Homo sapiens: one gene and its partners. The protein of the gene in region 3 interacts with the protein of the main gene of each other region in a pairwise test. Each region holds a gene or a part of one and is shown on either strand. Other genes may lie near its edges.

Region 1 (9,037 bases), on a different chromosome or scaffold from region 3:
GAAAATACAGACTGCTTCTCCTGTTGCTTAGTGATTGGGATGGGAAAGAACACATTTGCCAGGTCAGTTGCAGCATACCAGGTGCCAGGGGCTGTGTTGATTTGCTCTGTTGAAGAAGCCACATCTGGAAGCCTCGCTGCAATTGTGCCATCAGCTGACCTCTACCACTTCAAAGTTCCATTAGTCCCAGTGAACTAAAGGAACCAGTTCCATCACAGCTTTCCCCACTGTCATCTCCAGCCTTGTAAAGGACAGCCACCACAGAGTTCATCAAGAAATATGCTGCTCCTGGGCCAGACGTGGTGGCTCATGCCTGTAATCCCAGCACTTTGGGAGGCCGAGGCAGGCAGATCACAAGGTCAGGAGTTCAAGACCAGCCTGGCCAATATGTTGAAACCCTGCCTCTACTAAAAATACAAAAAAAAATTAGCCAGGCATGGTGGCACATGCCTGTTATCCCAGCTACTCGGCAGGCTGAGATAGGAGAATTGCTTGAACCTGGGAGGCAGAGGTTGCAGTGAGCCGAGATTGCGCCACTGCACTCCAGCCTGGGTGACAGAGTGAGACTCCGTCTCAAAGAAAAAAAAAAAGAGAAAGAAATATGCTGCTCCCCTCGCTCCCCTCACCAAGCTATTACTTCATAGCTTGATGAAAAAGGTATCTCCTGGAACTTCCTGGGGTGATGGCTAGACGGTGGTTTAGTAGATTGCACATAACAGAAACAAACACACAATTCCCTGAACTTTTAGAAATCCTTTTTCTAATGGAACAGAAATTAAAAAAAGAAAAAAAAAAGAATGTGTAAACAAAAACTCAGCTGTACGTAAGAAAACCCAACTCCCCCTAAGAAGGAGAAAGAGCTGGAGTCCTTTAAAAATTAACTGCCTGTTTTTCTGTGGCTAGTGAGCCTTATCTCTCCTTCTTTCCCAGGCATTGTGAAGACCCTGTTTCTCTAGCTGTGCAGCTGCAAGGTCACTAGACAGATAAACTCAAGTCATAAAACATGTTTTCCTTGAAAAGTAAGAAACGATGTAATGCACTTCTCAATTAATTGAATAACTATCTTTGTTTCTTGCTTCTGTAATATGCTTCCCCCTGCACAGATCTCCCCCAACCCCATGAAATGCTTAAAAGGTAACTTAACTCTTTGTTCAGGGCTCAGTCCTTTGGATGTTAATCCGACTGGGCCAGTACACCTAAAATAACAAATATCCTCCTCTACCCCATCGGTCTCTCTGATTCCTTATCAATCCTGCTACACTACAGTATACCAGAGAAGTTCCAGCATTTTGCAAAGGTAGAACTTTGGTTGGCTCTACCTAAATCAGGCTTTGATTAGCTAACTTAACAGACCATTAACATAATTTCTGGCCAAAGCATTAAATCCACAATCCCAGGTGAGTATGGCCATATCAGTAAGTTCGGCCCAGCCAACTCTCGATCTAACAACCTTAGAATCCACCCTCACACAATGCTTCTGAGATTCCTGGCAATGTAGATTAGTAATTTCTTGTAACTGTTCTGGTTTATAAACTATCTCCTCTTGGAGTGGACCTTGTACCTCTGTCTGGGCTGTCCTGAAATACAAATCTCATTGTGAGCTAAAGGCAATGAGAAATAGTAGAGGGGGAATCCTGAGGAGAATCAGCTTAAGTGTGTGTGGCAACTGTGCCAGTGCAGTCACTGAAAGGCTTTTATGCAGAAAAGGGCCGCTTCCCTCAAAAGGGAGAGTAAGGGTTCCCTACACCAACAAGGCACTTTGGAAGTTCAAGATTCTTAGCCTTGTGTATGTTTGCCCAAATGTCCTAATCCCAGGCCTCAGAGTTCTACTTCTTCCCCACTAGTGCCCTTATCTTAGTGCAAAAGACCTGGCAGAGTTAAGCATTTGGTAGTACTGTAGGCATTGTAACCCTGTGACCCTTGCAATGGAACCCAGGGTTGCCCTCAACCCATGCTGTGACTATGAGATAAAGGACCACTTCAGAGCTGCCAGGGAGGTCTTCTGATTTTCTGCACAGGTTTTTAATTTTTTTTTTTTTTACTATTTTATTGAGGTATGGTTGATGTACAATAAACTACACATATTTAAATTGTACAATGTACAGTTTTGACATGTCTATATACCTGTAAATCCATCACTACAATAAAAAATAAATCTATCCATCACCCTCTGACGTTTCCTTGTACTCCTTTGGAATCCCTCTCTTTTTCCTCTTTCCTATCTCCAGACAACTACTGATCTGATTTGTGTCACTTCAGATTTGTGTCTTCTAGAATTGTATGTGAATGGAATCATACAGTATGTATTCTTTTTTGATAGATTTATTTCATTCGGCATTATTTTGAGGTTCGTCCATGTCATTCTGTCTATCAGTAGTTCATTCTGTTGTACTGCTGCGTAGTATTCCTTTGTGTAGATATCCTACCACTTGCTTATCCATTCACCTGCTGATGCAAATTTGTGCTGTTTCTGGTTTTTCGCAATTAAAATGACAAATAAACCAGCTATGAACATTCACATACAATCTTTCTGTGGACATGTTTTTATTTCTCTTGGGTAAGCATGTAGGGGTGGAATGACTAGGTAGAATATTTGGTGTGTTTACTTGTTTAAAAAAAAACTTGTCAAACCGTTTTCTGAAGTACACATTCTAATTTGCATTTGCTCCATATCCTTGCCAACAATTGGCATGACAGACTATTTCAGTCATTCTAGTGGGTGTGTAGGGGTATCTCATTATCATTTTAGTTAGCACTTCTCTAATGATTAATCATAGTCACTGGTTGAGTTATGCTAATTTGCTAGGTATGTATCTTCACTGATGGAGTGTTTATTCAAATTTTTTGCCCACTTTAAAATGTGATTGTTTGAGAGGTTTTTTTTTTGTTTTTTTTTTTTTTACATATTCTTGATTCAAGAACTTTGTCAGATATATATTTTGCAAATGTTTTATCCCGGTCTATGGCTTTTAATTTTGATAAAGTAAAATTTAAAATTGTTTCTTTTATAGTTCCTGACTTCTATGTCCTCTTTAAAAAATCTTGGCCAGAACAAAAGGCACTAAGATTTTCTCCTTCAATTACTTTTAGATGCTTTATGGTTTTTGCTCTTATATTTAGATCTATAATCTCTTTTCAGTTAATTTTACACATGCTGTAAGAGAACACTCAAGTTTCATTTTTCTGCATTTGAAAATCCAATTTGTTGAAAAGACTATTTTTTCCCAATTAAGTTCCCTTGGCACCTCTGTTGAAAATTAATTAACAATATACATGGGGGTTTATTTATTTATTTTTTTGAGACGGAGTCTCGCTCTGTCGCCCAGGCTGGATAGTGCGAGGATAGCAGTGGCTGGGGGGAAAGGCTGACTGATTCCAAGGAATGAGTCATCTTGCTCACCTGATTATTAAGATTCTTCTCTGTTGAGATTGTTCTTTGGTGAGCATTCACATACGACACAAGCATCTTCTCACTTGGTGCCCATCTGGAGAAGTCTGCACATACCTCTTCCCCAGACCACTTGTCACCAATTTTCTAACCATGTTCTTTCCAAATCCCTGACCATCCAGTCAAACCATCCATCAATCACCATCCATCTATAGATCTATACTTCTGGCCATCTTTTCTTTCAGGCACAATATACAACCAGGTATGCTACTTGAGGTTCTGTCCCAGTAGGATTTCCCTTCCCCTCTGTACTGCAAGTGAAGCTGTAATGTATATGGAACTTCCTGTGAGTCCCACCTTTTACTTGACCCCCTTAGGCCTGTTAGGACTTGAGTTTGACCAATGGAATGCAAAATAAATGTTGCTGTGACTTCCAAGATAAGGCCTTAAAAAGCCTTGTAACTTCCACTTTCTGTCTTTGATACTTTTTTTTGTGTTTGTTTCGAGATGGAGTCTCGCTCTGTCACCCAGGCTGGAGTGCAGTGGTGCGATCTCTGCTCACTGCAAGCTCCGCCTCCTGGGTTCACGCCATTCTCCTGCCTCAGCCTCCCAAGTAGCTGGGACTACAGGCGCCTGCCACCAAGCCCGGCTAATTTTTTCTTTTCTTTTTTTTTTTTTTTGGATTTTTAACTAGAGACGGGGTTTCACCATGTTAGCGAGGATGGTCTCAATCTCCCGATCTCGTGATCTGCCTGCCTCAGCCTCCCAAAGTGCTGGGATTACAGGCGTGAGCCACCGCGCCCGGCCACATGGGGGTTTATTTCACAATTCCATATTCTGTTCCATTGACCTATATTTCTGTCTATATGCCAATACCACAATGTCATGATTACAGTAGCTTTATAAGTCTTGAAATCAAGTAGTATAGTTCTCCAATGTTGGGATTCGATCAGGCTGCTGGGAAAAATATTAGTTATGATGGCCACAAAACCTTTTTGGAAGGCCTGAGGGTTTTCACATGACCTCGGTAACAGACCGGGCCGAAGGCGGCCTGGTCCCATTAACTTTAGTTAAAAAGATTAAAGTAGTAAACAACGGGATGTGGCGAAGTTTTACCTAGTTAGCTTGTTTACTCATGCGGTCTTAAGACAAGCCTTTGATGTGTGCTTTTTACTCGGGAAGTCCACAATGTCAGTTAGCCTCTAATGGCGTTCACTCAAACTTTTGTTAACTAATCTTAATGAATAAATATGAGTCTCCCTAGCTGATTGGGGCCAGCTGCAGTGACAAGCCTCTCTTGGTGTGTAGGCGGTTGGACACTCAGCAGGACTGGCAAAACAGAATATCTGTGTGTCAGTGTGCGTTTTATTCATCTGTCGTTTGGGTCAGGGTCTGCGGGCAGACCCCCTGCAGCTAATGCCCTCTTGTGAGGAGCAATACCTCATTTCAAATTTGTTTTTTTCCCAAAATACTACGTATTTCCTTAGTAAGTGTTTCATCAACTTACATTTGCCTCATCCACTCTATTTTTCTAAGTTTTCTTTTCTTTTCCAAATCTTGCCTTCTCTTCAGTTTAGAGAAATGGAATTCACTTTCCTTTTTGTCTTCCACCACCATACCATCAGTAGATAGCCAAAACTATTGAGAAACAAAAATGAACATACAAAATGTTGAAATATCGATTGTGAGGTTATCTGGCAATAGACAAGAACTTCTATGTGTTCAGTAGGAATATGGCAAGATAGAAACAGAGGAGAGGATAGATACTTTCAAGGTATTTCTAATTAAGTGATGGGTGAGTAGTACACTCAGCCTTCAGAAGCACATGCTACAGATAGATCAACAAAGTACTAGTGTACTGAGGTGCTTAATAAGTGTTGAATGGATAAATAAACAGATATATTCTAAGAGTGTCTCATCTTCTCACATGAATAGACCTGACCTACTCTTAGTGCTGATGGCTTTTGATGACTCTAATCCTCAAGGAGTACAGCCACCCTTCAGGAATGCAGAAGTCCCTGTACCATGTCCTAAGACTTTGTGGTTTCCCCGTTATGACATTTTCTCCTAACTGGTTGTCTATTTTCCCCCTTCCAACTCATTCCCCCTGCTCTATCACACATACCCTAGATAATAAGGAAAGTTTGTTAATCCTTCCAAACACTATATATTTGCCCTTATTAAACCACTTAACATGTTTACCACACTGTACTGAAATATCCTGTTTACTTGACTGTCTCCCTAATTGAAAGGCAAACTACTTAAGTCTATCCCCTGCATCCAGAACAATGTCTGGTATATGGTTGATATGCAATAGTTTATTATTAAACAAATGAATGAATTCATACCTTGATCATTTTCACTTTTCATACTTGGTATATTCTTTTGTGTTTGTTTTTGTTGTTGTTGTTAGTTTGTTTTTTGAGACAGAGTCTCACTCTGTCGCCCAGGCTGAAGTGCAGTGGTGCCATCTCAGCTCAAAGTGCTGGGATTACAGGCATGAGCCACAGAGCCTGGTCATACTTAGTGTTAATATATTCAACATACCAAATTCTACAATCCGTATACTGGGTATATAATCTGCTGAGTACCAGAGAGTATCTAAAGATGGTCTAGATTCAAAGCTGATAATTAAAAGTAGAAATAAATGTAGTAAGAAAAAGATAAATTGCTGTGCCTTGAAGTATTATTAGCAACCCCTGAGTAGCTAACTTAAGCAAAATTTATCAATTAAATTACTAGGATTTATTATTTTAAAAAATAATTTTAAAATTAATTTTTGAAAAGACAAATGGGTTTCTAAATACGTAAGGTTAAAAATTAACATTTCTCTTTTCTTACTGTATCAGAAACTGGCCTCCAGCCATTGTTTTCTATACGATGATACCAGCCACTATGATCCTCTTCCTGAAGATGATCATTTTTATTATGAGATGTATGCTTTGCTGGAAGTTTTGCATAATTTCTAGGGCTGTTAGCACAGAGATCTTCAATAGGTCTGTGAGTAAAAATCTTATAGTATATATCAGGTGGAAATTTAACCTGTAGAAGGAAAAGTTCAAAGAGCCATTGTAATGTAACTACAAAAATGTTTTACATTTTGAAAAATTACATTGTTTCAATTTCATAAAAATGTGCTTTATAACTACTAAATAAGCATTCATCCATACTTACTCCACCTAATCTGAATCGCACATGAATGCCAGCAGCAGCATCTAGAAGCTCTGCCTATAAGAAAATATATTATTCTTATATATTATTCTTCAGGATTCTGTATGTATCAATTCACTATTTCTCACTCTATTATTTTAAATAATTGCTAAATATTGACTATTTAGGAAATCAGTCAGGTGAACCAACCTCAAATAATCAATTTTAAATTAGAAAAATTGTTAAAAAAATTTTTTTGAGATGGGATTTCACTCTGTTGCCCAGGCTGGAGTGCGGTGGCATGATCTCAGCTCACTGCAGCCTTAACCTCCTGGGCTCAAGCGATGCTCCCATCTCAGCCTCCCAGATAGCTGAGACTACAGGTGTGCACCACCATGCCTGGCTAATTTTGTATTTTTTTTTTTTTTTGTAGAGACAAGAGTCTTCCTATGTTGCCAAGCTGGTCTCGAATTCTTGGCCTCAAGTGATACTCCTGTCTTGGCCTCCCAAAGTGCTAAGATTACAGGCATGAGCCACTGTGCTCAGCCATTAAAAAAAATTTTTTTTTTGTAATTAGAAAATATTTTATGAGGCCGGGCATGGTGGCTCACGCCTGTAATCCCAGAACTTTGGGAGGCCGAGGTGGGTGGATAATGAGGTCAGGAGATCGAGACCACGGTGAAACCCCGTCTCTACTAAAAATACAAAAAATTAGCTAGGCATGGTGGCAGGCACCTGTAGTCTCAGCTACTCAGGAGGCTGAGGCAGGAGAATGGCACGAACCCAGGAGGCAGAGTTTGCAGTGAGCCAAGATCGCCCCACTGCACTCCAGCCTGGGCGACAGAGCAAGACTCTGTCTCAAAAAAAAAAAAAAAAAAAAAGAAAAGAAAAGAAAATATTTTATGAGCTAAGGACTTAATTTCTTTTTATTATTATTATTATTATTATTATTATTATTTTATTATTACACTTTAAGTTTTAGGGTACATGTGCACAATGTGCAGGTTAGTTACATAGGTATACATGTGCCATGCTGGTGCGCTGCACCCACTAAAAGGACTTAATTTCTTATGGACATCTATGGTAAATGAAAAAATGATACCAAACTGTTTCCTTTTTATGCAATATATAAACATAAAAGCCAAGTAATTTTTTAGTCATAAAACTTAACTTTTAAATAACTCCTCAAATATTACATATAAAATATTATCTTGCAGGTAAATTCAAAGAAAAAATTATGACTGATCAACCTAAATTCAACAGTAGATGACCTTTCCTAATTAGCTATTGTTAAATTTAAAAATCCATGTTTAAAATTCTGGGCCGGGCGTGGTGGCTCACACCTGTAATCCCAACACTTTGGGAAGCCGAGGAGGGTGGATTGTTTGAGGTCAGGAGTTCCAAAGCCAGCCTGGCCAACATGGTGAAACCCTGTCTCTACTAAAAATACAAAAATTAGCTGGGTGTGGTGTCGGATGCCTGTAATTCCAGCTACTCTGGAGGCTGAGGCAGGAGAATCGCTTGAACCAGGGAGGTGGAGGCTTCAGTGAGCAGAGATTGCACCACTGCACTCCAGCCTGGGCAACAGAGACTCTGTCTCAATAAATAAAATAAAATAAAATAAAATAAAATAAAATAAAATAAAATAAAATAAAATAAAATGATATAAGAATTGTATATAATAGGTTTTCTAGATTTTAGTTTGGTATGCAGCACCAAATGGAAAGTAGAGAAAAAAATTCTTGGTCCTTTATCGGAAGACAGTTCAATCTTGTCTCCTGATCATATTAGGTTAGATCAGAAAATAGATGTTATTCAACCTATAGAGTCTTAAAGACAACATTAATTTTGCAGAATAATCTTCTCTTGACTAAAACTTTTATGAATTCAAATATGAAGTGTGAGATCCTGTTATAAAACATATTTTCTATATTTGAGCCATAATAATATATACACATTTTTTTCACTAAGGTGGACAGATCTTAAGTGTACAGCTCCATGAATTTTTACATATGTATTGTACTCTCTTGTGCTTGGCTTATTTTGCTCAACATGAATCTGTGATAAATCTCTAAGATTCGTGTATGTAGTTGTAGATAGCAGCAGTTAGTTCTTTTTCACTGCTATCTAACATTCCATCATATAATAGAATATATGACAATTTATATTATTGTTGGACATTTGATATGTCTCTAGTTTTGGGTTAAAATGAATAAAACTACTCATTCTGTGAACATTCATTTTTATGTCTTCTGTGGGTTATAACAATCATTTCTCTTTGTTACATACCCAGGAATGAAATATGAGAGGTCATGAGGTATATATGGTATGTAAGTATACAGATGGCCCCGACTTAAAGTGGTTCAACTTACAATTTTGACTACAATGGTGTGAAAGTGATATGCATTCAGTAGAAATCATACTTCACATTTTGAATTTTGATCTTTTCCCAGGCTAGCAATATGTGGTATGATGCTCTTGTCGTGATGCTGGGCAGTG
Region 2 (5,327 bases), on a different chromosome or scaffold from region 3:
AGTTTAGTCACCTCTGAGCCACCCATCACCGCCAAAGTGTGGGGGAAGGATAGCTGCAGATTGACAGGCGAGGCTCAGAAACTCCTGGCTTAGATTGAAGTGTGTGTGATGGGGGTGCAGCTTAGAGGACCCCCTCTGAAAGGGATGGAGATGCTGATGAGAACAACACTACCACTTGAAGGTGAACATTCCCTGTCTGGTTGGACTGAGTCAAGGGTCTGCGGTGCAGCATCTTCAGCTTGAGAAAATGAGGTTGTCAGTTTCCAGCAAGGCTGACATCCACCAGACTGATTTCTCCGATGTTGCACTTGGCTGGCTTATGCCTCTGAGATCGGTGCCACGGCTGTATTTATTTCAGTTGTCACTGCTGCTCCCTCCTGCTATGAAACGACACTGCCAGTGCCAGCAGTGTCCTTGGGAAAGGCAATATTTATGAAGGGCAGAAGAGGCAGCCCCAAGAACCTAAAGACTGCAGGCTGCTAATTGCAGGAAATGACTTTGGAAGGGCAGGCTCTTGTCCAGTTTCAGGGCTGAAATGCCTGGCGAACTCCATTCAGCCATCACATATTGACTGAGTGGCTGCTTAGCATGGGCCACCGCGCTAGGCTCGGGACAGCTGGTCTTTCCGGCCATCTTTCTTGCTGGCAAGTCAGCAAACATTACCTTCTTAGTCACGTGCATATTTTTGCCTTCATTCTTACCACCTGGCCTGCAAAGTTTGCAGGAGGGCCAGGTATATTCACTTGTGTCTTCTGGGTCCTTTCATTGCTGACAGGCTGTGATGGCCCTCTTGAGCCTTGGGCAGGGTGGGTGAGGTGCAGATGACCAGGAGTGTGTGAATGCCTTCCAGGAGGTGGCTTTGTTCCGTGCCTCCCTGCCCCCATCGTCACTACCAGGTCTGGTACGGAGTCGGTGCTCAGTGTTTGCAAAACAGAGCTGAAAACGGACTTTGGGAGGCCGAGGCAGGCAGATCACCTGAGGTCAGGAGTTTGAGACCAGCCTGGTCAACATGGTAAAACCCCATTTCTGCTAAAAAAAAAAAAAAAAAAAAAAAATTAGCTGGGCATGGTGGCGGGTGCCTGTAATCCCAGCTATTCAGGAGGCTGAGGCAGGAGAATCACTTGAACCTACGAGGCAGAGGCTGCAGTGAGCCAAGATCGTGACACGACACTCCAGCCTGGCTGATAGAGTGAGACTCCGTCACAAAAAAAAAAAAAAAAAAAAAAAAACCCTGAAAACGCAATCACTAAGGCTCGGTCAGGGAGTATGTTCAAAGAGCTTGCAGCGAATCACTCAATTCTGTCTACACCTCAAAATCTCAAAATCTTCCTGGAATATATATATATATATAAAATAACACAGCAGCCCTGCATGCCTAGCCATGGGAAAGCACAGCCTCCAAAGGATAAGGAAAGCTTTTTGAGTAAATACAACATCCTAAAGTGACAATCTTTGAAACAAGGCCGTTCACCTGTTGCCAAGTCCTGTCCTTCCAGGACCGGGTGTCACAGCCTGGATGTTAACAGTCGCGTTCTCAGACCCCCGCCTCTGTATCTGTCTCCCGGTTCACCAGCAAACACTTCTCTGAGAAACCACCTGGGTGCAGGGCAGATGCCACCACTCAGCAGGTGTTTCTCTCCTGTGCTACCAACCTGGGAAAAATGGAGAAAGCTTGCTTTGGGGGCTGGAAGGATGGGGTGTTTAAAACATTTGCTCTTCTGCAGTGCCTTTCAAAAGCTCTATCAAGAGCCCGAGGCAAAAGAAAAGATGTGTACCCCTCTGTACACTGAGCAAATGTCCTCCCATATTTTGAACCAGGTGGGAAAAGTTAATGAAAGCCCTACAGTCAGGAAATGTGACTGCGAAGCCCCCGCTGCCCCAGTGTTTGCACACCACTGGCAACTCTCAGAAACAATCAGTCCCATTGCACGGGAACACGGGGTTTTGAAACAAACAGCAGCCTGTTTTTATTTAAAGTCGTGATCCCTTGCTTATCGTAGATTTTTTTCATAATTTGATTTTGGAAAATATTGCACACAAATACTACTCGATCCCTGAGTTTGTGGGCACTTCCTTACATTTTGCACCCATGAAAATGCCTCCTCCGCCTCCAGGTCAGGCTCCCTGGAATGGGGTGTTTAGTGTCATTTCCAGAGACAAGCTGGCAGTTGGCTCTTGTGTCAGAGAGAAGCCCACAGTCACAGTGACACCAGCCCGCACTGTGGAAGGGCTTGCTATGTGCAGTGCCCTGAGCCAAGTGTTCCACAGACATTATCTCATTTGAACCCCATAGCAGCCCTGGAAGGAGGCATTGGGTGGGGAACCAAGTTGTCCTGGGGAGTCAGTGCCAAGATGTGAGCCCCGGACGCGGCCTCGTCACTCACAGCCCCGTGCTCCTCAGCTCCCACCCACTGCCGCTTGACAGTCGTTTTAATCACTACCTGGGCTGTGGCGAACAATGCCAGGCTCTGATAGATCCTGCTGTCTCATTTCTCAACCTAGTTTCCCTTAACTAATATTTCATGGCTATCGTTAATGTGCGTTTTTCATCGAGTAATTTCCACAGCCCGAACTTGTAACACATCCCAATGACAAACGTCCCCAGTTCGGAAGCCCCCGTCAGTGGCAATGTCACCCTTGCTGCTGCCTCGACACCTTCCGACAGCCCATTCAGTTTTATGATCGCCCTGTCCCAGTGATCACTACTGAACCTTTAAGAATCCAGATGCATTTCAAGTTTAATTGAATAAAATTCTTTGTATAATAAATTCCGCATGAATGCTACATAAATCAGTGCCTGGAAGGATTTGTGGCTCATCCCTCCCCTCTGGCGGGGCCTGAGAATCTTCTGGCAATACTGACACAAGCTGGAATAAATGCATCTTTGCAGTCAGTCCAGCTAGAGGCAGGCGGCACAGTTTTAACTTGCCTTGGCCTATTGCTTTTCTTCTCTCAGAGTCCTCCTGGAAGATAGTGCTAAAGTCCAACAGAGGCAGGGACAGGCAGATTGCGGAGACCTAGAAACTTTGGGGACATCCCTCGTGTTCTCCCATTCCACAGAATCAGAAACTTCTCAAGCTGTGGTTTGTCACCTTTGGAATGCACACACACATATTCACAAGTTTGCATCCAGTCATAGGAAGTCCATGGAACCTCCCGGTAAGAATCCCTTTTCTAAGAGAACCCATGCGACCCTCTTCGGGAGCTAAGTCAGGATTCCCAAGGCTGCCTTCAGCAGCCTGTTTCAGGGTCAGATAGCTCCAGCCTGGAAGGGTGAGAAGATGCACTTGGGGCTGGCTGGGAGAGGCTGCTGGGTGACCTTTGATGCTTGTAGGGTTGTGGGGTGCAGGGAAGGACTGTCAAACAGCTGGCTTGGGCACTGGCCCCAGGCAGGCTCAGGTTCAAGGCCAGCTTTGTCACCTCCTGCCTTGGTGACTGGGCAAGTCATTCCATCTGTCTCGGTCTTGCTCCTCCACCTATAGAATGGGAATCATAACATCCACCCCATGGGTCACTGGGATTGTTTAATGAGGTAATACTTAAAAGAGTAATATTGCCCCCTGGCAAATATTAGCTCCTGTTATTACAGTTGTTTGCTATTACTACTACTATTTGAATTCAGATTCCATCTTTGTCACTTCCAGCATCTCCTTAAGCAAATGGTTTAACCACTCAAAGCCTCTTTATCTTTTATAATAGGATAATAATACCAATTTCCAAGAGTTCAGAAATAAGTCCACAGGCCCCAGACATGATAGCAGCTCCAAAAAATAGCTATTGTTGTTCAATCATATTTGACCCTTTTCAAAGCACGTTCTAAAAGCTCATCCCCAGGTGACGCTGAGGACAGCATGGCAGCACCTCTGGCCCCTCAGGCTTGCTGAGTGGGTGGGGGAGACAGGTGGCCTCCAGAGGTGGCCAGGCACAATCAGATGAGAAGATGGGGATGTGGCTCCAGGAACACAGGGCCAAAGTGAAAGTGAGAGTGAATTGCAGGACAATGAGAGCTGAACACGGTCTCAGACATCATTGCTCCCATTTTATAAATGAGGAAACTGAGGCCTGGAGAGGAGAACTATTTTTTTTTTTTTTTTGAGATGGAGTCTCACCCTGTCACCCAGGCTGGAGTGCAATGGCATGATCTCAGCTCACTGCAACCTCCACCTCCCGGGTTCAAGCGATTCTCCTGCCTCAGCCTCCTGAGTAGCTGGGATTACAGGCCCATGCTACCACACCCAGATAATTTTTTGTATCTTTAGTAGAGATGGGGTTTCACCATGTTGGCCAGGCTGGCCTCAAACTCCTGACCTCAGGTGATCTGCCCACCTCGGCCTCCCAAAGTGCTGGGATTACAGGTGTGAGCCACTGCGCCTGGCCTTTTTTTTTTTTTTTTTTGAGACCGAGTCTTGCTCTGTCACCCAGGCTGGAGTGCGATGGCGTGATCTCGGCTCAACTGCAACCTCCACCTCCTGGGTTCAAGTGATTCTCCGGCCTCAGCCTCCTGAGTAGCTGGGATTATAGGCATGCATCACGATGCCTGGCTAATTTTTTTTTGTATTTTTAGTAGAGACAAGGTTTCGCCATGTTAGCCAGGCTGGTCTCGAACTCCTGACCTCAAGTGATCCACCTGCCTTGGCCTCCCAAAGTGCTGAGATTATAGGCGTGAGCCACCTTGCCCAGCAGAGAGGAGAACTTAATAAGTACATCTTAATAAGGACCACACATAGAGCACTGATTATGTCCAGGCATCTTGCTAAGAACCTTACATTCAATAGTTCATTTAATTATGTCAAGAGCTCATGGAGGTGGAACTATTAATATTATCACCCCCAACTTACAGATGAGGAAACTGAGGCCCAGAGAGGAGATAGGAGTTTCTCAAGGTCAGACAGCTAGGAGGCAGAACCAGGCTTTAAATCAGGGCTCTGTGCCTCAAACACCATGACAGGCATTTCCTCAACACCTAGCTCTATGCTCAATTGTACTACAGTGCCAGGGTGTTCATGTCTTTCTAGTTCTCAGAACCCTACAAGGTACATACAATTATCCTCCCCATTTCACAGGTGAGGAAACGGGGGCTCCAAGGGTAAAGTCACTTGCTCAAAGTCACACAGTGTCCATGGGGGTGACACTGGGTATAATGATACTGTCAACAGCTGACACTTACTAAGCTCTCCTTACCACCAGAGCTTTTTAAACCATCTCAGCATAGCTAACCTTGGAGAGCACCTTCCTTGCATGCTTGGCATGTATTCCCCATAACAACCCCACCAAGTGGATGTTAGTACCTTTGCGTCATAGACTCAGAAACCGAGGCACAGGGAGAC
Region 3 (9,037 bases):
TCCAGCGTGGCCAGACATGCAAGACAGAAAAGTCTGGTGCAGTCGAGCTGTGAAACAAGATAGAGAACTACAGGTAGGTAATGGTAACTAGAGGCAAAATCTCTAAGTGGCAAGGCAAAGAGCTTTTGCCCCTGTGCAAAAAAACACCTCAGGAGCAAGGGAAGTGGTAAGCTTTCACACCCAGTTGAGAGAAATTTTGTAAAAATGCCAAAAATGGTGAGAACAGTACACAGCCTAAGCAGTCCAGTAACAAGGGACCGTTTGGTTGAGAAGGAACTAAAACTAACACTTAGATGTACTATTTTCTTTCACCTTGCTTGAAGTGGCATTTTCTCTCCTGTTATTATCATCATCATGTTAATGAGTGCATATCATATAAGATGCCTTGGGTGCCTTTATCTCTCAGACACAACCTCCGCACAATCTTAAAATCTGCTGTTAAGACCAAAAACATCAGAAATTTGAAAATCTTTTCTAAGTAAAGAATCTGAATAGAAAAGCATAGATTTTGCTTGTTGAATTTTAAGTGTAAGAGTGATAGGCAGCAAAGGTGAGGTCATGAGGATGTCCTTATGAGAAGAGACACAAGCGAAAACACATAGGAAGAACCTGCATGTCAGAGGCAGAGAATGGAGTGATATATCCACAAGCCAAGGAAAGACAAGGATTGCTGCCAATACCAGAAGCTAAGAGAAAGGCATGAGCCACATTCTCCCTTAAGCCTTCAGAGAGAACACGGCACTGTCAACACCCTGACTTCTGACTTCTGGCCTGCAGAATGGTGACAGAATAAATTTGTTGTTTTATACCATCTAGTTTGTAATAATTTGATACAGCAGTTACAGAAAACTAATGAAGGCATATCTCATTTTATTGTGCTTCACACATTGTGTTTTTTATAAACTGAAGGTTTGTGGCAACCCTATGTGAAGTTAGTCTGTTAGTGTCATTTTTCCAATAGCATGTGCTCACTCCATATCTCTGTGTCACATATTGGATATTCTTGCAATAATTCAAACTATGTCACTATTATTATATCTTTTATGGTGGTCTGTGATCAGCAATCTTTGATGTTACTGTATTTGTTTTGGGGCACCATGAATCATGTCCAAATAAAACGGTAAACTTAACGATACATGGTGTGTGAATGTTCTGACTGCTTCACTGCACCAGCCGTTCCCATCTCTCTCCCTCTCCTTGGGCCTCACTATTCCCTGAGACACAACAATAATGAAAATTAAGCCAATTAATAACCCTACAATGGCCTTCAAGTGTTCGAGTGAAAGAAAGAGTCACCCATCTCTCACTTTAAATCAAAAGCTGGAAATGATTAAGCTTAGTGAGAAAGGCATGTCAAAGGTCAAGACAGGTCAGAAGCTAGTAGCTCAGAAGCTAGGCCTCTGGAGCCAAACAGCCAAGTTGTGAATGCAAAAGAGAAGTTCTTGAAGGAAATTAAAAGTGCTAGTCCAAAATGGTACATTATCAGTGGTTGCTGAAGCTCGGAGCTGGTCTATTACACTATTTTGTTTATTTTGAATGTGTTTAAAATTTTCTATAATTGAGTAAAACATCTGTATAAAAAGACAAAAGAAAAAAGTGATACTCAGTGAACACACCAATGATAAGAAAGTGAAACAGCCTTACGGCTGAGACAGAGAAAGTTTTAGCGGTCTGGATAGAAGATCAAACCAGTCACATTTCCTTAAATCAAAGTCTAATCCAGGGCAAGGCACTAACTCCCTTCAGCTCTGTGAAGGCTGAGAGTGGTGAGGAAGCTGCAGAAGAAAAAATGGAGTTAACAGAGGTTGGTCCATGAAGTCCAAGGAAATATGTCATCTCTATCATATAAAAATGCAAGTTGAAGCAGCAATTGCTGAAGTAGAAGCTACAGCAAGTTATCCAGAAGATCTAGCTAAGATCATTGATAAAGGTGGCTACACTAAACAACAGATTTCCAATATGGATAAAACAGCCTTCTATTTGAAAAAGATGCCATCTAGGACTTTTATAGCTAGAGAGAGGTCAATGCCTGGCTTCAAAGCTTCAAGAACAGGCTCTGGTTAAGGGCTGACGCAGCTGGTGAACCCAATGCTCATTTAGCATCCCCTGAAAATCCTAGGGCCCTTAAGAATTATGCTAAATCTACTCTGCCTGTGTGCTATAAGTGGAAAAACAAAACCTGGGCAACAGCACATCAGTTTACAGCATGGTTTTTTGAGTATTTTAAGCCCACTGTTGAGACCGACTGCTCAGAAAAAGATTTCTTTCAAAATATGACTACTAATTGACAATGTACCTAGTCACCAACAGCTCTGATGGAAATATACAAGATGATTAATGTTGTTTTCATGCCTACTGACACAACATCCATTCTACAGCCCACGGATCAAGGAATAATCCACTTTCAAGTCTTCTTATCTAAGAATACGAAATACATTTCTTAAATCTATAGCTGTCATAAACAGTGATCACTCTGATAGATCTGGGTAAAGTAAACTGAAAACCTTCTGAAAAGGATTCACCATTCTAGATGCCATTAAAAACGATTGTCATTCATGGGAGGAAGTCAAAATATCAATGTCAATAGGAGTTTGGAAGAAGTTGATTCCAACCCTCATGGACGACTTTGAGGGAGTCAAGATTTCAGTGAAGGAAGTCACTACAAATGTGGTGGAAACAGCAAGAGAACTAGAATTAAAAGTAAGCCTGAAGATGTAACTGAATTGCTACAATCCCATGATAAAACTTCAATGGATGAGGAGTCGCTTTTTATAAATGAGCAAAGAAAATGCGTCTTAAGACGGAATCTACTCCTGATGAAAATGCTGTGAACATGGCTAAAATGACAACATAGGATTTAGAATATTCCATAAACTTTTAAGCAGCAGCAGGGTTTGAGAGGATTGACTCCAATTGTACAAGATTTTCTACTTTGGGTAAAATGCTATCAAACAGCATCATATGCTACAGAGAAATTTTTCATGAAAGAAAGAGTCAATTGATGTGGCAAGCTTTATGGTTGTCTACTTTTAAGAAAACGACACAGCCACCAGCCTTCAGTGACCGTCACCGTAATCATTTAGCAGCCATCAACATTGAGGTAAGACCCTCCACCAGCAAAAATATTATGAACTGCTGAAGGTTCAGATGATCGTTAGCATTTTTTGGCAATAAAATATTTTTTAATTATGTATATTTTTTAGACATAATGCTATTGCACACTGTATAGACTACAGTATAGTGTAACTCTAACTCCCATATGCACTTGGAAACCAAAAGATTCATCTGACTCGCTTTATTGCAAGATTCACTTTATTGCAGTGGTCTAGACTAGAACCTGCAATATCTCTGAATAATGCCTGTATAGAGCTAGGGCCCACAGCATTGTTTCCTGGACCACAATAGGCAGGGTATGGTTCTAGGGTCCCCCAAATAGCAGGATTTTTCTTACTGTAACTGTGTCTTGACCAGAGCAGTGGCTGTATGGCCCTAGACCGGTGGACTTCTGATCACAGAAGAGGCAGAAACTCCCTTGGGGGCCTGGTACTGGGACATTCTGCTGGAAGCTCAAACTCCCTCACAACCATTAAATACTATTAAATGTTCAGTAACAAATTCCTTTCCACTTAAAAAAAGTGATTAGAGGAGTAAACGGGAGAACTATGTAACTAAAGACAATCTTTACTGACAGCTGATTTTTTGTTGTTGTTGTTGTTGTTGCATTTTTAGTAAAGATGGGGTTTTGTCATGTTTCCAAGGCTGGTCTCAAACTCCTGGGCTCAAGCAGTCTGCTCAGCCTCGGCCTCCAAAGCGCTGGGATTACAGGTGTGAGCCACAGTGCCCAGCCAACAGCTGATATTGTAAATACTCAAAGCCATAAAAGTGAAGGTGAAAACAATATGTCATTCAACAATAAAAAATATTTCTTAACAGTAAATACATTATTAAAACTTTATTTTAAATGCATTTTGAAAATGGAAAAAAATGTCAGTTTTCACTGAATACCACACCTACCACCAGACTACTCTAAACATATTCTAACAACAAAGACGGTGATGAGAACAAAGGAAGTCAATTTGTAGGTTGCCATGAAAAATAAGAAATAATTCGTTCCATAAACCAATCCTCCCCCCAGAAAAATCTTCTTATATAAGACCTTTCAATTTACATGTATTTATTGACTAACAAACCACACCTAGAAATAAACTGTTTGGAATAAAGATATACTATTTGCATAAAACAAATGACCTATTCTAGGTGTCTCTTTTTTTAATTTTTTTTTTATTTTTTTTAGAGACAGGGTCTCACTCTGTCACCAGGTGGGAGTGCGGTGGCATCATCACAGCTCACTGCAGCCTCGAAATCCTAGACTCAAGCCATCCTCCAGGCCCAAGCAATCCTCCTGCCTTAGCCTCCCAAGTAGCTGGGATTACAGGTGCGTGCCACCAAGCCCAACTAATTTTTTTTAAATTTTTTGTAGTGACAGGGTCTCACTATATTGATCAGGCTGGTCTTGAACTCCAGGTCTCAAGCAATCTTCCCACCTTGGCCTCCCAAAGTGCTGAGACTACAAGTATGAGCCACTGTGCCGGTATCATATCACTTTACTATATGGTCCAGCAGTTAGATATAAAGGCAATACAAGATTAGGAATTCATTACATTTTAGAAGTATAACAATTTTTCATAAACACATCTATTCAACTTTTCCAACCATAATATAAGGACATATGTCTTTGTTATGATTATAACCATAATAAAATGTATAGTAATTCACCTAGGTAAATATAAGGATATAGGGGAAATATTTCAACAATTTAAAAAAACAATTTTAAGCATGCTAGGAAGAACATTTTTAATTTTGCCAATTTTTTGAATCTGTATTTAAAGATCTTTTTGCAACTCACATTATTTGTAGTCCATAATATAACCCCCCAAGCCTCTTGTGCCTTTTTCTGCCTGAGAAACTATGGCTTGCTGGCTCTCCCCACACTCCAAAGAAAGTCATAAAAACTAACTCAAATGTAGGAACCATTAAATTTTGAATATGGAAATCACAGGGCAAAGGAAAAGGAGAATTCAAGCAGAGGAAGTGGAAATGGCAGAAGTGGGAAGCAGCCCATTAAGACAAAACTGGGCCAAGGCAGAGTGGGTGACAGGGCCTGTCATCAGAACAAACTGACAACAGGAGATGTGTTTCCCACCCCTGAAGGTCCTAAGAATAGAGAAGTAAGTGAAATGAAACTAACACTGGGCCTGCTACCATACATTTACAAAGGTATTTTCATTTACTCCTCAAGGCAACTTTATGAGTTGCGACAACTACAGTCTGAATAAAATGAGCAACTCAACCAAGGTCATAAAGTAGGCAATGACAACCCTGGAGTTTTCTGCCTAGTCTTTTCCACATCATGGTAAACACAGATAATGATAATATATGTGCAGCAGGGTCAGATAAAGAGAAGAGACTGCTTGTAGCTGGTGGCAACTAGCCAGGAATTCTGATTGTCCCAGGTCCTACCTGGGCTTCCCCGAGGGCTAAGGGGTCAAAAGTCCAGCACACACAAAACCCACTCCTGACTAGAGCTGAGAAAGTGTACTGTGTAATTTTTTCACAAAGCTGTTGCATTTTCCATTCTGCTCTATGCTACTCAGTAGCTACACCCAGGTAAGTCTACAGCTAATTCTTTTCAGAGCAAAGGTCAGAAGTACCTCTACCCCAGGCCAAACATACCTTGACTGTAGGCCCTCTGCTAAAGCACAGGCTCTTTCCAATATTTTTTACTGGGGCGGGGGAGAGTCTTTTTTGAAAGACTAAGTTAATGTTTCCTAAAAAGAAAAAAATTTGCCCAACCCCTTGCTTATGTCAAAAATTCCCTCTAAAGTAGACAAAGGTAGTCATACCAGTAGGCTTAAAATAAAAACTACTAGACAAAGAAACATATGAGTAAGTTTTGGTATGTTTCTTTGTCTAGTAGTTTTCATTTAGTAAAGACAAATGACTGACATTAGATTCTATGTCGCTTTAGTCAGAAGCAGGGAGCCACAGACAGGCATTCATTCAATGTCACAGGATAGGAGTGGGATCCTCCAGAAGCAAAGAATGGTGAAGAAACCTGAAAACATGGATAAACCTAAAAGAGGTTCTTATGCTGACAAACTCTGAAATGAAACACAAAATTTGGGAATGGACAGCTGGGTATTATTCTGAGGGAACTGTGGAAGATCAACAAATTGTCACAAGAGTCTAAGCACAAAAATAATTATAAAACGCTGTTGTGGAAAATTCCGAATCAACCCAAACATCAATGGCATAGCACCACATTTAGACCTCTGGTATTATTTTCTAGAGTGGGGGAAAGCTACCAACCTATTTGTATAAATAAAGCTTTATTTGAACACACCTATGCCCACTTGGTCAGATACTGTATTTGGCTACAATGGCAGCAGATGCAATCACAGGGCTCACAAAGCCAGAAATATTTACCATGTGATCCTTCAGAGAAAAAAATTGTGAATCACTATTCTATAAAAAAGCAGACTGGATTGAAAAAGTAGCCCTTACCCACTACCAACAGAAGACTACTAATAAGATTTACAAAAAGGCCTATTTCCATTATGTAACAGAAAACACGTATTTCTCAATTTTTATAGACCACTAAAATCAGTTTTATTCATTTATATATTGTTCCGCTTAACACTTTGATAGCTATTACAACAAAACCACTCATTGTATAACCTCATTACCTAAATAGTATGGCAGGGCAGTTATTTTGACAAAGGTTAAAAAAGAAGTTATCCTGCTCAAAAATATTAAGGAATGCTTCATGATCATCTGTCCTTCTCATTCCCACTGCCCACTGAAAAGCATGAAATATACTCTGTAAGTGTTTTCTTCAGAATAAAAAAAATTTTGTGAAAATACACAACACCTAGGAATAATCAAACTATTAATTACCAAAGGAGAATTCAGCAGTTTAGAAGTTTTATAACTCTGAGATTGAATTGTATCAATTTAAAAATTCTGAACTGCCATTATATTATACAAATGCATATATTTGATTACAATTATGTAACCAAATGTTATTCATCCATATTCCCTACAAAAATGGGTGGAGGGGGGAGAATTAAATTGAAAAAGTCTCAAAAGGGTAAAGAAATGCGTCTTAAAACATCTTGCTATATATTTACATAAATCCTGATGAAGTGCTGATAAAACAATTCGGAGCAAACAGTAATCATACATGGCATTTCCAAGACACCCTTAAGTCGTACATTAAGTTTAATATGTTTTATAGACGATGCACTGAAATACCTACCCTCGTAGTTTTCCAACAAAAATTCGAAGGGGTAAACACTTAAATGTGAATGAAACCGGGAATGAGGACAGAGTGCTGTTTTGTGCAGCTGCAGCTGCAGCTACACTGTGTATTTTTTAAATACTACACTGTGCATTTTTAAAATACCAAAGCCTATTTAAAAAAAAAAAAAAATCAAGGGAAACAAAACCTGAAAGAAATTTTGGAATTACCTACTTTTTTTTTCCCCAAAAGTGCGTAATCACTAACACTTAACTGGGCCCTGCTCTCAGGCCCAGTTCTCAGGTACCCTGAATGGTGGCGACATTTGTAATACTACAGAGGTACATTCTTAAAACATCAGATAGTTCCTAGGAAAATAGTGTTTAGTTCTGGAAACACTGTAAAAGTCTCTAATGATATCTCAGACCACATATTTAAGTGAAAAAAAGAAGTCTATATTTCAGTAAATGCGCAATAATTGAGGGGAAAAAAAAAGAATACTTAAATGTTTACAGTAAGTCAGAGCCCAAAACTATCAACTGCAAGCACCAGGAAAGATTTGGGGCATGAGGTCCTTATGAGATTAAGTACTTATTTACACAAACTGTAACTGCACTGGACTTCTGGTCATTACGATGCAATTTTTTTTTAAATTTATTAATCAGGTATGTTAGCTATAGAGGCATCAAATCTCCCCTCCTCTACTAGTACACTGCCATCATACCATATGTGCTTTCCTCATTCTTTGGGTAAGTGCTGTTTTACTGGGATGGAAATGAACTCGAAATTGTCCAGACAGGAAAATATGAAAGGGGGAAAGCAATGGTGGGTGCTACATGTATTATCTAAATAAATAAACCTAAATACTAGTTCAGACTATAAAATGAGTCTGTACGCTTAGAAATAAAGTTAGTCTTGTTAAATTGGTAAGATTTTTAACCATGGAAAGATTCCCAAGAAGTTGTGAAAACGCCTAACGATTTAGATTCTGACATTTAGTGGTTTTCATTTTCAGGTAATTTCAGAGTAAAACCCGCCTCAGTCACATGGACTATATTTAGTCTGCTGACCAACTTCGCTTCTAATCTACTATAAACTTTCAGTAGTAGTTAAGTTCTAGGTGCAGCTGAATCACGAAACGGGACACCTAGGATGGCTCAGGGAAAACTGAAGCCCCCCTCCTCCTTCCTTCCTTCCTTCCTTTCTTTCTTTCTCCAGGCTGGCCCTCAGCCTGGCGCCCCTTCCGCAGACATCCCTAGAAAAAGAACTAACGCGGCCTTCTCCGAGCCCAGGGCTGGAGTAGGAAGTACCCGCCCTCCCGAACGCGAGGTCCTGGCTGCGCATTGGCTGCGAAGGCCGTCAGTACTCCGGAGGGCGGAGCCTCCCGGCACCCAGCGGAATTTCAGGCCCGCACCTCCGGGAGGGTCCTCCGGGCTCCCGGGCTCCTTCCTCCCCCTTAACACTACCCCCGCACACACACCGGCCCCGAGAAGGCAACTAGCCTCCTCAAACGGTTCCTTTGCCTTTTTATTTCGCAGGCCTTCCTCTCACCCCATACAGTTACTGCCCCTTTGACTCCTCCGAGAGGCAAAGCTTTTTCAAAGCTCTAACACCTCTCCCCTACCCCAGCAAGTTCCCCGTGCGAGACCAAATAGAGGATGCCGCTGTTCTAAGAGTGAAGCAAGCTGTGGACTGGATCTCGCCGAGGGAGAGAGAATTCCTTCCTCTGGAAATAAA
Region 4 (9,037 bases), on a different chromosome or scaffold from region 3:
AACCTTTAATCTTCACTCAGGAAATAATATCTTGACTGCAAATTCTGTTTTATGTCTCCCTCGTTATTAATTACTAATCTGTGTTATATTGCCATGTTCGTTCATCCAAGGTCAAATACGATCCGCATTAAATTTTTGTCTTTTGCAGCTGCTAAAAGCTAATGAAATATAAAGCCATAATCATATAAGAAAAGCGTTCTGAATATGGGAAATAACTGGCAATTGGGGCTGAGGGATTGTCCTTTCTTGCACTTAGTTGCAATAGGTCTCTCTGTAACAAGATTTCCTAACAATTAACATGACCCAACTGGAAAGCTGGCTTCTTTGTGAATTTCCTAGTAAAGCTGGAAGCCAGTAAAAATCATTTAAACAAAGAGGTGGTTCTGCTCTCTTTGGGTTTTGTGTTGTGTTGTGTGTGTGTTTTTGTTTTTTCTTTTTTGAGACAATGTCTTGCTCTGTTGCCCGGGCTGGAGTGCAGTGGTACGATCATGGTTCACTGCAGCCTCCACCTCCTGGGCTCAAGTGATCCTCCTGGGCTCAAGTGATCCTCTGCCTCAGCCTCCTATGTAGCTGGGACTACAGGTGCGAGCCACCATGTCCAGCTATTTTTTTTTTCCTTTGGTAGAGACGAGGTATTGCTATGTTGCCCAGGCTGGTTTCAAACTCCTAGCCTCAAGTGATCCTCCCGCCTCAGCCTCCCAAAGTGCTGGGATTACAGACATGGCTACTACACCTGGCCTTTCTGCCTTCTAAAGGTTCACGATTCTAAAATGGATATCTAAATAGCCCCTATCAGAGTCTCAAAATACTTGAAATTTTTAAAGCAAAGGTAAATTAATCACACAGCAAATAAAAAGATGAAGATGTATTTAATTGGTGTAAAGAATAAAAAGGTTGTTGGGATGGGTTTGTTTTGTTTTGTCTGTTTCATACAGGCATTAAATGTGTTTGTAGTACCAATCCTATACAAACCTCCAGGCCAACACATTATCATATCAAACGGTGACTATTACCTAAGAATTGGTAGTGAGAGGAATCATGATTTCAGATGAAGAAAATGGTCTCCTTTTACAAAGAAAAGTACTTATTTAAAATGATTCCCAATAAAACAGGGATTAGAGCATATGATGTGGGCTGAAAATAAAGATTTGGAGTCTTGACACACTGATGTCAAAGCCATGGACTAGAAAAAGCATCCAAGGAGAGTGTTAGAGTGACAAAACCAGAGAGCCAAGGGGGAACCCAGAGGAGCCCCAACATTTAAAAGCCAGGAGAAAGTAGAGTCCACATAAATAGTTCATGCAGAGACCTAAAAGAAAAACCAGGAGAATGTGTTGCCCCTGAAGCCAAGGGCAATGAGTAGTAAGAAGGGAGTGGGCAGGAGTGCCAAAGACTGCCAGGAAGTGAGCAAAATCAGCACTGAAAATGCTCCATTGGACTTCGAGGTCATTCAAGAACCTGTCAGATCATCTTCCCTGGGCTGGGATCAAAGAGGAGGTAGGAGACAGCGGGTACAAATGCACCCCTAAGGAGCGAGCTTGAAGGGGAGGAGAGAGACGAGAGGAACTGGAGGGGATGAGAGGGCCAGAGAAGACTTATTTTAAAGGGAAGGAAAGAACAGTTACAAAGGGCAATTTTGGACAACTGGGAAATTCTGAATATGGACTACATGTTAGATAATGTTACACTATCAATGTTAAATTTCTTCAGGGTGATCTAGTATTGTAGTTATATAAGAGAATATCCCTCTTTTAGTAGATGCATGCTGAAGTACGTAGAGGTTAATTCCATAATGTCTACAGCTTATTTTCAAATTATTTCAAACGGGTGTTTATGTACTATTCTTTCATCTTCTCTGTAGGTTTGCAATTTTCAAAAATATTTGGGGAGGAAAACAAAAGCAAAACAAAATGGCTTGAGAAAAAAATATATATATATATACAAACCAAAAAAAAAAAAAAGGAAAAAGGAAAAAAAGAGGAAAGTCACCGAGCATGTCAAGATGCTGATGAGCAATAGCTAGCGGAATGAGCAGGAGAGGCAGAAGGAAAATCAATGCCCTCCCCTACCTACCCCTCCCACAGCTACAGAGCATACGGATAGTCTTAGAGGGACAATGGACTTGAAAGAGCATCTTCTCTGTCTGCAGTTCATTGAGGAGGAAAATGAGGACGGTCCGAGTTCACAGGGATTTTCAATATACCCTACGGTGGCAGTAAAGACTGCTTGATGGCTATGATAACCTAGAACCCTCTGACAAACAATAGCAAGGAGAATGGCAAGAGGCCCTCTAAACTTGGAGAAAATTCTTTAGGGAACACCAAAGATGAAAGATTTTCATTTGTTATTTTTCCATGAAGGTCTCAAACTGAAATATACATCACAGTAAAGGACTTCAAATTGGGAGTAAGGAGATGGGGATGGAGAGCCGGGAGGGGGGCTCTCAAGCAGCTGTGAATGGCTTGATTGTTCGATTTTTTTTTTTTTTTTTTTTTTTGAGATGGTGTCTCGCTCTCTCGCCCAGGCTGTAGTGCAGTGGTGTGATCTTGGCTCACTGCAAGCTCCGCCTCCTGGGTTCACGCCATTCACCTTCCTCAGCCTCCCGAGGAGCTGGGACTACAGGCGCCCGCCACCACGCCCTGCTAATTTTTTGTATTTTTAGTAAAGATGGGGTTGCACCGTGTTAGCCAGGATGGTCTCAATCTCCTGACCTCGTGATTCACCCGCCTCGGCCTCCCAAAGTGCTGGGATTACAGGCGTGAGCCACCGCGCCTGGCGATTGTTTGATTTTTAAACAGCTAAATTAACTAGATGTTTTACCAAGAATTAAAGAAATATTTAGTTTGCTATTCAGTATTTTTAAGTTTTTTTCATATAAAATAAAGAATGAGTACTTTTGAAAGGAACAATTTCCTTTAGAGAAACTTCTATTTGTCACAGCTTACGCATCAAACCACAAAGCCAAAAAAGCACGGATTGTCTTTGTCGGCCTCTTAGCACTTACAGAAATTGAATAAATACATTTCTAAGTGGTCTCAAGGGAAGAAATAAAATATATCAGTGTTTCCAAAGTGCTCCATGGGAACAAAAAGGCAATAGATTATTAATTGAAATACCATTAACATAAAATTTTAAGTGTCAAGTGAAATTCAGGAGAATGAAATTGCAATGTTTAATTTCTGTTATGTGGATAAATTCCAATTCTCCAAGTCAGGGTAGCATATCAGAAGGGCCATGAACTTTGGAATCTGCCAGATCTGGTTCCAATTCAGGCTCTGCCACCCATGAGTGTGTAACTTGGGGCAGTTAAGTCTCACTTTCCTCATTTATAAAACGAGGGAGACTAATCAAAGCTTTAAGAGTTTTGGTAAGAAATAATGAGAGTAGCAGGCACTCAATAAATGATAGCTATTATTAGTCCTCTCTTACCTGCTACATATCACAAAAGAAATAAAATAACAATGACAATATAAAATTGATGTTACTTTTTTTTTTGAGATGGAGTCTCACTCTGTTGCCCAGGCTGGAGTGCAGTGGCATGATCTTGGCTCACTGCAACCTGTCTGCCTCCCAGGTTCAGGCAATTCTCCTGCCTCAGCCTCCCAAGTAACTGGGATTACAGGCATGTGCCGTCACGCCCAGCTAATTTTTCTATTTTTAGTAGAGACAGTGTCTCACCATGTTGACCAGGCTGGTCTTGAACTCCTGACCTCAAGTGATCCACCCACCTCAGCCTCTCAAAGTGCTGGGATTACAGGTGTGAGCCACTGTGCCTGGTCTTTTTCTTCTTTTAAGAGTCAGGGTCTCACTCAGTGGTGGTCCTGGCTGGAGTGCAGTGGCATAATCATAGCTCACTGCAACCTCAAACTCCTGGGCTCAAGTGATTCACCCGCCTCTCAAAGTGTTGGGATTACAGGCGTGAGTCACCGCGCCTGGCCCGATGCTACTTCTCTACATGGAAGCTGGGTAGAGCACAAGAAAGGGAATAGCCTCGATTTTATATGTAGGTTACGCTTTCTCAAACTGCCGTGATACTCCAGAGGCAGAGTACTGTGGTCAGGTGGAACGACCTAGCAGGACAAAAAACCCTTAACACTAGTCAGACCAGTGGAAACAGGAATCAAGCACGAGCCTTGGCTCTGTGACTTGCTGTGTTCCCTTGAGGCAATCACTTTGCCTTTCAAAGCCTCATTTCCTTTTCTGCAAACTGAGAACAACCCTTCAAAAGGCTGTGAGGATCAAACGTATGTTACAGGGCCTGGCCAACTTGAAAAGCACTATGCAAATACAAGGTACTGTATATAAGTAAATTTAATTAAAGCTAGCTTCTGAAGCAGCAACATTCAGAGGTGGCATAAAATGGTGTAATGGGTGACAGCAAAAAATACTTTGTCATCAAAACTCCTTGAATTCAAATCCCAACTCTGCCAGCTGTAAGCTGCATAAACTTACCAAGTAGGCTGGGCACGGTGGCTCACGCCTATAATCCCAGCACTTTGGGAGGCCGAGGCGGGCGAACCATAAGGTCAGGAGTTCAAGACCAGCCTGGCCAACATGGTGAAGCCCCGCCTCTACTAAAAATACAAAAAATTAGCTGGGCATAGTGGTGGGCGCCTGTAATCCCAGCTACTCAGGAGGCTGAGGCAGGAGAATCACTTGAACCCGGGAGGTGAAGGGTGCAGTGAGCCGAGATCACGCCACTGCGCTCCAGCCCAGGCGACAGAGTGAGATTCCATCTCAAAAAAAAAAAACAAAAAAACGAAAAACAAACTTACCAAGTACCACACTGAGCATGAGCTGCTTCCACTATACAAACAGGAATAATAACCCTTTATTCAGGTTTATTACAAGGATTAGATAAAACATATGTAGATTATGTTGAACACTCTTTGGAATATGGTTAGTAATCAGGAAATAATATCTATCATTTTCTATCAAGAGCTTTCAAAATATTTATAGCCCTTGACACGATAATTTCATATCTAATCACCTGAATATAGAAATAATCCAAAATAAGGAAAAGGCTTTGCACAAAGAAATTCTTCAAAGTGTTATTTATATTAGTATTAAAAGGTCCAATATTTGAAGAATAATTAAGCATATTATGGCCTATTCACCAAATAAAATACTTAGCAATGACTAAAATGATGTTTGCAAAGCATTTATAACAACTTGAGAAATGTTTACATAACATTTTAGTGCTGAAAGTGAGGCTACAAAAAACTAACATTTAGGATGATCAGAAATCTATAATATACAAAAAATACATTGAAGGAAATTATCAGAATGTTGTCATTATCTCTGGGTAGTGGAATGATGAGGGAGTATTCATTATTTTCAACTGCTTTTCTATATTTTTTCCAAATATCTGAATGAGAGAAAATTTTATGCACACAATGTTTGTCTATGAATAAATATAAGTAAACATCACTGCATCAGCTTTCAGCAGATTTATTATTATGAACTCATAATAAACCTTGATTGGCATATCCAACAAGAGATAAAAGAAGAAAAAGAATTTTAAATGGCTCTTCTGGACGCACTCCATATGGGTTTGCCCTGCTCCATAAGGAGCAATGGAGCAGTAAAGAAAAAAAAAAAAAAAAAAGAATTTTAAGGGAATACTCTGAACAAGTATATGTCAACAAATTAGATAATGTAGATGAAATGGGCAAATTCCTAGAACTACCACAAATGACTCAAGAAGGAATAGAAAATCTAAATAGTCATATAACAAGAGACAGAATAAGTAATCAAAAAAACTACGCACAAAGAAAACCTCATGCCCAGATAGCTTCACTGATGAATTCTACCAAATATTTAAAGAATTAATACCAATTCTTCATGAACTCTTCCAAAAAATGGAGGAGAAGGGAACACTTTCCAACTCATTCTATGAGGCCAATATTACCCTGACAGTTAAATCAGACAAAGATATCACAAGAAAACTATAGATCAGTATCTCTTATGAATATAGTTGCAAGATTCCTCTACAAAATACCAGCAAACTGAATTCAGCAGCATATAAAAAGCATTATACACCATGATCAAGGGGATTTATCCTAGGAATGCGAAGTTGGCTTAACATCAATTAACATAATGTGCCATTTAATTAACATTATATGCCATATCATAAAATAAAGGACAAAAACCACAAGATCATCTCAATACATGCAGAGAAAGCATTTGACAAAATTAAACACCACTTTGTAATAATAAAAAAATCAATAAACTAGGAATAGGAGTGTGTTTTCTCAACCTGAGAAAGAGCATCTATGAAAAAGACACAGCTGATATAAGACTTACTGGTGAAACACTGAATGTTTCTCCCTTAAGATCAGGAACAAGACAAGGATGGCTACTCTTGCATTTCTATTTGACATTGTAGTGGAGGCAAGAAAATGAAACAAAAGGCATTGGAAAGAAACAAGTAAAACTATATTTGCAGATGACCTGGTTTGTAAATAAAAATTCCTAAAATATCCACTAAAAACCTATTAGAGCTAATGAGTTCAGTAAAGTTTTGGGATATAAGACCAATATACAAAAATCAATTTTTAAACATTTGCAATAAACAATCCAAAAATGAAATTAACAAAAATCCATGTATAATATCATCAAAAAGAATAAAAAACCTAGGTTAAATTTAAGGAAAGAAGTGTAAAACTTATACTCTGAACACTACAAGACACTGGTGAAAGAAATTAAAGATCTAAATAGATGGAAAGACATCCCATGTTCATGGATCAGATTATTTAATTGTTAATATAGCAATACTCCCCAAATTGATCTACAGATTCAACACAACCCCTCTCAACATTCCACTTGGCTTCTTTTGAGACACTGACACATTGATTCTAAAATTCATATGGAAATGTAAGGGACCCAGAATAGCCAAAATAATCTTGAAAAAGAGAAACAAAGTTGAAGAATTCATACTTCCCAATTTCAAAACTTTATTAAAAAAAGCTATAGTAGGCCTGGCGTGGTGGCTTATGCCTGTAATCCCAGCACTTTGGGAGGCCAAGGCGGGCGGATCACAAGGTCAGGAGTTCAGACCAGCCTGGCCAACATGGTGAAACCCCGTCTCTACCAAAAATACAAAAATTAGCCAGATGTGGTGGTTTGTGCCTGTAATCCCAGCTACTCCGGAGGCTGAGGCAGGAGAGTCACTTGAACCTGGGAGGCGGAGGTTGCAGTGAGCTGAGATTGTGCCATTGCACTCCAGCCTGGGCTACAAGAGTAAGACTCCGTCTCAAAAAAAAAAAAAAAAAGCTATAGTAATCCAGACACTGGTACTGGCATAAGAAAGACATACAGATCACTGGAATAGAATTGAGAGCCCAGAAATAAACATTTATGGTCAATTGATTTTTGACAATGGTGCTAAGAGGATTCAATGGGGAAAGAACAATCTTTTCAACAAACAGTGCTGAGACAACTGGATATCCACATGCAAAAAATGAATTTGTACTCCTACCTCACACCATACGTGAAAATCAGCAACTCAAAATGGTTCAAATGCCTAAAAGTAAGAGCTAAAAGTACAAAACTTTTTTTGGCCTTTAAAAACATATATATTTAGGGGGTATAAGTGTAATTTTGTTACATGTATAATGAAGTCTGGGCTTTTAGCGTAACCATTACCCAAGTAGCATACATTGTACTCATTAGGTAATTTCTCATACCTCACCCCCCTCCCACCCTCCCAGCTTTCTGAGTCTCCAGTGTCTATTATTGTATTCTGGATGCCCATATGTATACATTATTTAGCTCCCACTTTTAAGTGAGAACATGGGGTATTTGACTTTCTGTTTTTTGAGTAATTTCACTTAGGATAATGGCTTCTTGTTCCATCCATGTTGCTGCAAAAGACATGATTTCATTCTTTTTTATGGCTGAGTAGTATTCCATGGCATGCATATATATATATATACACACACACACACATATATATACATATATATATGCACACACATACATACATATATACGTATATATACACACACATACACACACACACATATATACACACACACACACTTACATATACATACACCACACATTTTCTTTACCCAATCATCCATTGAAAAACACTTACGGTGATTCCATATCTTTGCTATTGTAAATAGTGCTGCGGTAAACATAAGAGTGTAGATATCTATTTGATATAATGACTTCCTTTGGGTAGACTCCGTGGTGGGATTGCTGGATGAAATGGTAGTTTGGTAGCTCTATTTTTAGTTCTTTGAGAAATCTCCATAATGTTTTCCACAGAGGTTGTACTAATTTACATTCCCACCAGCAGTGATAAACATTCCCTTTTCCCTACATCCTTGCCTACATCTCTTATTTTTTGACTTTTTAGTAATAGCCATTCTGACCGGTATGTAAGGTGGTATCTCATTATGGTTTCAATTTGCATTTACCTGATGATTAGTGATGTTGAGCATTTTTTTCGTGTGTTTGTTAGCCATTTGTATGCCTTCTTTTGAAAAAATGTCTGTTCATGACCTTTGCCCACTTTTTAATGGAGTTATCTTTTTTTTCTTGTTGAGTTGTTACAAAACTCTTAAAGTAAGACGTGAGCAAAAATCTTTTTGGACTCGGGAATGGATTCTTAGATATGACACCAAAATCACAAGCAACCAAAGAAAAAATAAAGTGAACTTCATCAAAAGTAAAAACTTTTGTGCTTCAAAGAACACCATTAAGAAAGGATGAAGAGAATTCAACAAATGAGAGAAAATATTTGCAAGTCACATATTTGATAGGAAACTTGTATCTAGAATATATAAATTTATCTTACAACAATATAAAAATAAATAATTCAATTAAAAATGGGTAAATGATCTGAATAGACATTTCTCCAAAGCAGATATACAAATAGCCAATAAACACATGAAAAGATGCTCAATGTCATTAGTCACTACTGAAATACAAATGAAAACCATGGTGTGATACCACTTCATACCCACTAGGATGACTAAAATCAAAAGGACAGACAATAACAACTATCGCTGAAAATGTGGAGAAA

Evidence for each region.
Region 1: the proteins of NEK7 (region 3) and C11orf65 interact in binary tests that used the Homo sapiens proteins (3 or more experiments, as listed by UniProt).
Region 2: the proteins of NEK7 (region 3) and MMAB interact in binary tests that used the Homo sapiens proteins (3 or more experiments, as listed by UniProt).
Region 4: the proteins of NEK7 (region 3) and PPEF1 interact in binary tests that used the Homo sapiens proteins (3 or more experiments, as listed by UniProt).

The regions. Positions count from the first base shown.
Region 1 is NC_000011.10:108,400,534-108,409,570, forward strand, and holds part of C11orf65 (protein MFI), read right to left. Parts: intron 6,617-9,037; coding exon 6,563-6,616; intron 6,431-6,562; coding exon 6,230-6,430; intron 5,027-6,229; coding exon 4,896-5,026; intron 1-4,895. UniProt on the Homo sapiens protein: Acts as an inhibitor of mitochondrial fission. Interacts with MFF and prevents DNM1L recruitment to mitochondria, promoting a more fused mitochondrial network.
Region 2 is NC_000012.12:109,551,178-109,556,504, reverse strand, and holds the end of MMAB (corrinoid adenosyltransferase MMAB precursor), read left to right. Parts: 3' UTR 1-2,790; downstream 2,791-5,327. UniProt on the Homo sapiens protein: Converts cob(I)alamin to adenosylcobalamin (adenosylcob(III)alamin), a coenzyme for methylmalonyl-CoA mutase, therefore participates in the final step of the vitamin B12 conversion.
Region 3 is NC_000001.11:198,158,769-198,167,805, reverse strand, and holds part of NEK7 (serine/threonine-protein kinase Nek7), read right to left. Parts: intron 1-9,037. UniProt on the Homo sapiens protein: Protein kinase which plays an important role in mitotic cell cycle progression. Required for microtubule nucleation activity of the centrosome, robust mitotic spindle formation and cytokinesis.
Region 4 is NC_000023.11:18,709,992-18,719,028, reverse strand, and holds part of PPEF1 (serine/threonine-protein phosphatase with EF-hands 1), read right to left. Parts: intron 1-9,037. UniProt on the Homo sapiens protein: May have a role in the recovery or adaptation response of photoreceptors. May have a role in development.